Regions from separate parts of the Homo sapiens genome. Here region 1 is linked to region 2. Evidence: fine-mapped expression QTL. Tissue or cell type: nucleus accumbens. Region 2 holds a variant in brackets; the other region holds the start of a gene. All regions are shown on one strand. Distances are from middle to middle.

Region 1 (4,402 bases), 54 kb before region 2:
TGGCGCTCACCGCGTAGATGTAGGCGCCAGGCACGTTGTTTTCAGTCACATACACGTCGTAGACCGGCTGGCTGAAACGCGGCGCGTTGTCGTTCACATCCGACACTTGTACCTGGATCGACTTACTGGTGGAGAGCGCAGGCTCGCCCCGGTCCCGAGCCACTACAGTCAGGGTGTAGGAGTCCCCCGCCTCTCGGTCCAGGGGGGCTTCGGTAACGATGGTGTAGTAATTCTTAAAGGAAGACTTGAGGCGGAAAGGCACGTCTCCCAGTAGCTCGCACTGCACCTGCCCATTCTCCTCTGAGTCGCGGTCAGTCACGCTGAAAAGGGCCACCACAGTGCCGGGCGCCGCGCCCTCACTCACCGCTTCCTTCACGGTGCTGAAGCTGATCTCTGGCGCGTTGTCATTAGCATCCAGTACTCGCACTAGCACCTTGCAGTGCGCAGGCACGGCGTTGGGGCCCAGGTCCTTGGCTTGCACGTACACTTGGTACACTGGGCTCTCTTCATAGTCCAACTCGCCGCTTACCTCCAGTCTGCCAGTGCGCGGCGAGAGTCCGAAAAGCTCCCGCGCCCGGGGCGAAATGTGGCTGCTGAAGGAGTACACGACCTCACCGTTCTGGCCCTCGTCCGGGTCGGTGGCGTTGAGCTGGATCACGAGAGTGCCTGGGGGAGAGTTCTCTGGTAGGGACACAGTGTAGACGGGTTGGTCGAAAGCGGGCACATTGTCATTGGAGTCCAGCACTCGGATGGTGAGTAGGGCCGTGCCGGTGCGCTGCTGCTGGGGGGGCAGGCCTGCTCCCCCGCCACCTCCCCCTCCTTCTCCTACTCCTCCCCCACCTCCTCCGTCCACCGCGGTCAGCACGTAGCGGTGCACCGCTTGCTGCTCTCGGTCCAGTGGCTTCTCCAGCACCAGCTCAGCGAATCGGTTGCCATCCCCCTGGGTCTGCACGTCCAGGGAGAAGTAGCTGTTGGGGGTGATCTCGTAGTCGCGCAAGGAGTTGGTGCCCACGTCTGGGTCGAATGCGCTCTCCAAGGGGAAGCGAGTGCCTGGCGTGGCGCTCTCAGAGATTTCCACCGTCAGGTCTGGCTCCGGGAAAGAGGGGGGGTTGTCATTAATGTCCAGCACCTCGATCTCCACCTGGAACAGCTCCAGGGGGTTCTCCAGAAAGACCTCCAGGTGCAGGACACAGGAGGGGCTCTGTTTGCAGATTTGTTCGCGGTCTATTTTCTCGTTCACGTACAGCACCCCTGTCTCCAGGTTGAGGTCTAAGTAAGGGGTCCTTGAGTTGGGCACCGTCTGAAACCCGCGAGCCGAAAGTTTTGTAATGTCCAGACCCAGATCTTCAGCGATATTCCCCACGAAAGTGCCATGTTCCTGCTCCTCCTGTACCGTGTAGTGAAGCTGGGAAAAGACTCCTTCCACCATCCAGAGCAAGGCAAACAATAATAGCACAATCATCTCCAAAAGGAAAGGAAGTAGCTTCCCGCAGCCAGTCAGCCACCCAATCACCTCCCCCACCACCACGAAACAAAAAAAAATCTGAAAAAATACAAATAAAAGTGCGCTACGTGGGGGCTCCTGTGGCTTTCTGTCTTTAAAAATCTTACTCCTTTTGCTTCATTTTAGAGCTTCCCGCAATCCAGCCTCATTTTTTTTTAAATCTTAGCACAGGAAGGGTGACAGGCGTCCCCTTTCCTCATCTGTAATCTTTCCACTGACTAATTAATAAAATAACAATAATACAATAGTCAGCGTCCTTTATTCCGACAGTCTTGGCGCTGGCAAATCCCAAAGAGGAAATTTCGATATTTCAAGACTGTCCTCGGTTTGTCTTCTTGCTGATGGGAGGAGAACGAGGAGGAGGAAAAAGAGGAGGAGGAGGAGGAAGAAGAAGAAGAGGAAGAGGAGAAGGAAAAGGAGATGCTGTTGGCACCGTTAAACATGCCTCTTAATGTCAACGGCTGGCAAATGCAAAAGGGCTTAAAATCAGCGATATAATTTTGTGCCGGAAAAGCACAGAACGGCTCTGCAGCTTAAAACTTTCATTCTCTTCATTTCTCCGGATGGATGTTCTTCTTGACATTTTTTTCCTCTTTCGCTCTATTTGTATTTTTTGTCTTTCAGAGTCTTGGTTCCCTCTGTCCTCATCTCCACCGTTACTTGCCTCTCTGTAAGTGTAATGAGCAGTTTCTTTTCTGCTGTTTTCTTCCCAAGCCTCTTTCCCTCTAACCTGTCTCTTTTTCCTTCCAGTCCTTCCTTCCTCCTGCTTCAGCCTCTGAGCCTGTGGTCTGGGCTGGCAGTTTCTGAGCTCCGAGCGCTCGGCTTCTCCGTTTTTGCGCAGCGCCCTCATTCTGCCAACCAATCGCCCAGGAGCACCACCCACCGAGCTGCCGATGATTGGCCAAACTGGCCGCCAAACAGACACGTCACGCGGCAGCCGGGCGGGGCGGGACAGAACTCTCGCCCGAGCGGCCGGGGTGAGTGTGAGTGTGAGAGCGAGAACAGCCCCGCAGGTCCCGAGGCGCTGGCTGGGGACAATGCCGCGGAAAGTTCCCAGTCCCCAGCCGCAGGTAATGGGGAGGGAATAGAGAGGTTCCCCTGTTTGCATCAGCAAATGCGAAAACATAATAGCAACAGCTGCGATATCCTCTCCTAGGAGCGGGATTTCCAATGATGCTAACATTCTTTTTCCTTTAAGGTATTTTCCCTAATACGCATCATGGAAATAAATCATCGAGAAGGGAAAAAGTAGCGCAGGGCCCACTAATTGGCAAGGGTTACCTAATTAAGGGACCCTAGCAGAGACTGGCAGGGCATTTTAAAAGTGAGTATTATATGGCATGTGTCAATCTAAAGGTGAGGGGGTCTGACGGGGCCGTGAGGAAAGGCGCGAAGCATACGGAGTAGGGGGTGGAGGTGACTCCTAAAAAGCGGAGGAATTCACGCTAAAGGATGTGGGGATGACAGCGCTTACAGACGGGCAGACGCGTTCGACGTGCTTCTTTCCTCCCAAAATACATATTCACAAAATACTTACCAAGTAGATTAACTCACTCGAGGACCTAGCTTCGAGCCGTGAGCGCGTTCATCAGTGACTGAGGAGTTGATTTGAGCCGCTTCCTACAAGCCCGCCATCCTAACGCCGGGCTCTGGGGCATCCGGCACACAGCACCGCCAAGCGCTGCAAAGCGCCTCTGATATCCCTGCGCCTTGTGCGGCCAAGTGCCACGCAGCGGCTGGGAACACCGGCTATTTTCTATTTTTTTTTTGGCAATTGGAGATCGATCCCTTTACCCACCATGCTAGATTAGACCACTGATTTCTGCCAATCCTGGGGTCAGCCCGCGGGATGAGGACAGTGGGGCGGCGGCGAACGCGGGCGGGGTGGTGGGCAGGGCCCGTGCACACGAGGGGCCCGAGTGTGCACCGCTGCGGGTATCTGCGAACACGTTTGCACATGCACGGTACTTGCATCCATCCTCCCTGGCCCAGGGCTTAGCTCTGTGTAAGCCCCAACGGAGCCTCCCCGAGTTCCGAAGGACGCGCTTGACCAGCTGTGAGTGCCCCTTCCGGAGGCGCAGGGGCAACGCGGCACATCCACATAGCTAGTTCTTGTGAAGTTAAAACACAGCGCGAACTCTTTAATGCTGGAGAGTGGATAGAATGCCAGTTCTCTAAGGAAAGATCTATAAATATATATTTTTAATTAATGGGCCACTAGCAAGGAATTGGTTGTTTATTCACGAAAGAAGCCCCTATTCAATCTCCTTTTTATGCAAAGAGATAGGAAGGTCCTTTGCTGCTTTCTGGTAATGAATGACCCAAGAATACACCACCACAACCTGCGGGAAAAGTAGAGTCGTTTTCCGACCTGGAGATACGTTGCCATTTCCTCCTGGCAAGGAGTTAAGGAGGGCTAGTGTCCATGGGCGTGATAGTAGCCTGAGACGTGCTTCTGAGAGTCCCGCGAATGCACGTCTACTGCCCTGATTTCCGCGCCCCAACTCCCCGCAACGCCGGGTCCCCCCGGCCCCCGCACTTGGCTCTTTCATGAAGATGGGTCCTGCCTTTGAGCGCTTAGAAGGAAAGGATTCCAGCAAAAATGGCTAATCCTTTTCCAGCTGCAGTAAATTGAAGACTGGCCAAAGCCAAGCGAAAACCGCTGCAGTTAAAATGATTTTAGCATCACGTCTGCGGCTGAGAATGGAGCGGCAGTGTATAAAGGGACCTGTGGATCAATGAAAAGGAGATTATAGTGTATCTGAATATTAATACGGTATTGCATCTGTACTTCCACCCCTCCCCCCTTTCTTTTTCTTCAGATCTGCAGAATTGAAATGAAATGTTTTGAGCTCTTCAAGCTGACTCGTCAGAATCCTGGAGCCTTTTAAAAAATGA
Region 2 (4,402 bases):
GCAAGTGTTTCCCAGGGAGCAGAACCTGAGGTCATGGAGAACAATAAACAAGGAAGTAACTTTTAGCCAGGAATGTGGGTCTCATTAAGGAACTTTCCCCACAGAGGGGCAAATCATGTGTGTCTCATTAGGGGTGCTTTGTAAGACCTACCCAGCAGGATTGTATGGTTATTATTATCAGGTGTGTGTTCTGTGTTCTTTTTTCCCTTTCTTAAATGTTACTTGTCTACTATAGTTATCTTATCCCTGCTCTACCACTGACAGCATACATAAGACTGATTGTTTTTATATCAGGCTTTGCAGGACCACAACAACCACTCCCAGTCATGATGGAGAGAAGTGTTCAATACCCACAGATCCTGAACGTTGAGCTGATTATACTAACTAGATGGGACTTAGTTTTGTCTACCGTGGGGTGAGCGTATACTACCTGAGGGAACAGGTACACATGAATATTTATTATTACAATAACTGTTTTTGCAGAACTTGCTTACTGCTTACCAACATCCTGATTCTCCTCTTATTGATGTTAGAAATAGACTTTTCCTAGCTATTCTTGCTTTTTTGTGTGGACATTTCCTGAGGTCTAACCAATGAAGTATGAACACAGTGGATATATATCATTTCTAGACTTGACTCATTAAAAACTCCCATGTATGGTCCTTTAAGCTTTATTTGCTCCCTGTCTAGTGGAATGGAGAAGACTGTCAGGGAAGTCTTGGATGGCATAGGGTGAAGATGGCAGAGTATCTGTTGGCCATTTGGAGGAGAATTGTTCTCTGATCTGTTTACTCTTGTAAACAAGAAATACATTTCCATTATGTGCTATTTCATATTTTGAGTCCATTTGTTGCAGTAGCTAGTTGATCTTGCCTAATAAAAACAAGATTATTGAAGAAGTAACCGTAAGCACATGTATTAATAAATTCATCCTGAATGAAACATCATTTACTTCTAGCTTCACATTATTGTTTGTAATCAATTTTACAATAATACTTGTATAACTATGTGGTCCTAATTCAATGTCTAAATCACCAAATTATTTTTTATGGTGAAAACAGTAAGTTTTAAGTGAAATAATTAAATTCAGCATGAAAAGAGCTAAATTAAAAGAATATTTCTGGCTTATGTCATGATCTATTAAAGTGCATTTTATATAATCAGAAATCTGTCCTACTCCTTTCCTTTGGCTTAGATTTTCTCTATGTTGATTTCTTTTCTGCACAGGTTCTCTATGGTGAAGATGGCAACTTGCTGACTCAGTCTCAGAATGCGTTAAATCCACATATTCTGGCAAGTGGAGTTCTGCTTCTCCAATATCTCTTCCAGACTAAGTCTCGAAAGGACAGTAATTGATCCACCCTGAGTCATATGCCCATGTCCAAAGCAATGAGTTTGGGAAATTTCATGACACACTCCTAATTTTGTGGTAGGAGACACATCAGAACCACACAATGAGTCAGTCCTATTTATGAAATAGAGGTTCATCTATCAGATGAAAGGGAAAAAAGTTGTAAAAACAAAACAGATGTTCACTAATGGGGATCTATCTGAATTTCACCTGTAACTACAAATGCTCACAAGTAGATTTACAGTTTTCCTAGAGTGTCATGAATTTAAAAACATATGCATGGAATCATAAAGTAATATCCTAATCACCTCTCACAACCTTTCTCTCCTTAACATAAAATGAGAATATTTTAGCAGCAGGAGAAGGATTTTCATTTATAGACCTTTATCAGACACTAATGTAGGATTGAGTTTGACCTGATACAGTGTTCTATCTCTGAGTGTTGTCA[C/T]TCAGTTTTATCATAAATAAAATTTATTTTATATGATATCATATAGAGAACAAATTTACTTATTTTTCTCATGTAATCATGTAATCAATTGTTCCAACATAATCCATTGAATAGATATTGTGGCATTTCCCTAATTATTTATAAAGGCACTGTTACTAGATATGAATATTTATATATGAGGATATGAATCGTGGCTCTCTGATTTGTTCATTATTTGCTTGTCTATTCCTGTGCCAGTATCATACAATTGGTACTAATATAGTGTTCTGATATTGACAGGATGAAGTGCTCCTTCTAATGATGTAGCTTTAAATTTGTCTTGGTTGTGCATTTCTTTTTATTCTTCCATAGAGATTTGTGGTTCAGTTGTCAGCTTTGAAAATCACTTTTGGGATTTGAATTTGAATTGCATGAAATTTGTAGACTAACTTGTAGAAAATAGACATTTTTATGATATGAATTTACACATCCTTGTAACCATGGGTGTGTTATTTATTTTCACTTTTGAATATTATTGTGGGTATTTAGTAATAAAAATAACAATCGACGAGTTACATGGTGGTTACTATGTGACAGATGTTGTCAAAGTTCCATCCATATATCAACTTATTATATATTCTTATGGGAAGAGACCGTTATTATCTCCATTACACAAGTAAGAAAATCGAGGTACAAAGAGCTTAAGTAACATGTGCTAAGTCATATAAGAGTAAAGCTTTATTTGAATCCATGCAGTTTGTCTCCAGAGCTTGAAATCCATTTTATTTTATTTTATTTTTGCTTTTTAAAAAAAATTTTTTTGAGACGGAATCTCGCTTTGTTGCCCAGGCTGGAGTGCAGTGGCACAATCGCGGCTCATTGCAACCTCCACCTCCTGGGTTCAAGCAATTCTCCTGCCTCAGCCTCCCGAGTAGCTGGGACTACAGGTGGGCACCACCACGCCCAGCTAATTTTTTGTATTTTTAGTAGAGAATGGGGTTTCACCATGTTAGCCAGGATGGTCTCGATCTCATGACCTCATGTTCCACCTGCCTCGGTCTCCCAAAGTGCTGGGATTACAGGCGTGAGCCACTGCATCCAGCCTGAAATATTTACCAGTATCTGATATTGCCTCACTAAGAACTTTGCCCAACTCCTTAGTGATTCTACCATTGGCTTAGTATTTTGGATTTTCTAGTAGACAATAATATCGTGTGCATAAAGCAAATACAATTATTATTACAATAAAATTTTTAAACTACTCATTTGTACTTGCTTTCATAAAGCCTTAGCTAATTCCAACAAAATATTGATTACTGTGGGAGAGAGTGGTAAATCTTATTTTGTACCTAATATTAAATAAAATGCTACTAAATATAAGTGAGATGCTTGCTATAAGTTTTAGTAGTTAAACACTATAAAGTTATTTCTTGTCTATTTTCAAGAATTTTTTATTATTTTAAATGCATGTGCAATTTTTTTAAAAAGTATTGTTTTGCATCTAATGTTAAATAAAATGCTTCTAAGTATTAGTACTAAATATCAGTGAGAGGCTTGTTGTAAGTTTTAGTAGTTAAACACTATAAAGTTATTTATTTTCTATTTTCAAGAGTTTATATTATTATAAATGCATGTACAATTAAAAAAGTCTTATTTGCTCTTCTTTTCTAATGTTAAAACATTTGTGCTTTCCTGAGATGAATGCTGTGCTCTCATGAAAGATTGCAGAGTCAAAAAGTAGCCTCTGGAGTTAAGACTTTCTGGTTTTAGAGCCTCCTATGGCCACTTACTAATTATGGGTCTTAGGAGAGTTACTGAACCTTCATAATGGGTACCAATCCTAGATCCTGTCAAAAGGGATCCTTCTCTTGGCGATGACTTTGGAAGATCCTTTGCATGACAATAAAAAAAAAAGTATTATTAGATCTAATTTATTAGATAACACTTGGGTGTCTCTAAGTGTTATGGTGGTAAACGTTCAACAGGCTCTCAAAAATGCATATATGTATATGTTTATATAGATACATATACACTCAAATGTGTATATATGTATATATACACACTAATATGTTTATCATAAATTTTATTGATATAAAGGTTGTGTAACACAAGTTACAAATAATAATAAAATATTCAATATTATTTATTGTAAATTCTGTATAGCCGATTGCTTTTCATAGAATGCTTTCATTGACTTTTGCTGAACTCCTGTATATGGAGCCAGCTTACAAGTGTATTCACTAACAAGTGTAGTCCTGGCATGAATGTTGGTTGATATTTTCATTTACATTAATAAGACAGTGAAATAACACAGACATGTATTTGAACTTCACTTGTTCATCAGTGATGTGAGCAACTTCTTTGCCGAATTAGATAATAGGTTTAGAATAATGGAATAATATTTTCTCATTTTTTTTTCTACTAGCAAGGTAATAGCTACAGACAAGACACATTTTTAGGCTTAATGCACGTTATTAACATTTTCTCTATGACTTTTTAAAGTCTAGACAACAAAACAGTAAATGAAACCCTGATCTATAGTATTCGCCCTGTTTTTTTATGTAAATTCTCCCAACATGGCTAATTTCAAGCTTCTAGTGTGGGAGGACATGCACAGTGCACAC

What was found. PIP is the estimated chance that this variant, and not a neighbour inherited with it, causes the effect.
Region 1: it holds the start of PCDH10-DT, and the variant in region 2 is fine-mapped to the expression of PCDH10-DT in nucleus accumbens (GTEx, PIP above 0.99).

The regions. Positions count from the first base shown.
Region 1 is chr4:133,147,201-133,151,602 of GRCh38, reverse strand. PCDH10-DT (PCDH10 divergent transcript) reads left to right here and starts at 2,487. Exons shown (of 9, transcript NR_125885.1): 1 at 2,487-2,574; 2 at 4,327-4,402. PCDH10 (protocadherin 10) reads right to left here and starts at 2,309. Exons shown (of 5, transcript NM_032961.3): 1 at 1-2,309. The coding sequence starts at 1,462. RefSeq lists a silencer at 2,256-2,395 and an enhancer at 2,506-2,565.
Region 2 is chr4:133,092,776-133,097,177 of GRCh38, reverse strand. PCDH10-DT (PCDH10 divergent transcript) reads left to right here. Exons shown (of 9, transcript NR_125885.1): 8 at 295-442; 9 at 1,228-3,318. Among named protein-coding and RNA genes, the nearest start is that of PCDH10-DT, 54 kb to the left of the region's middle. The variant C/T (reference allele first, on the strand shown) is at 1,800.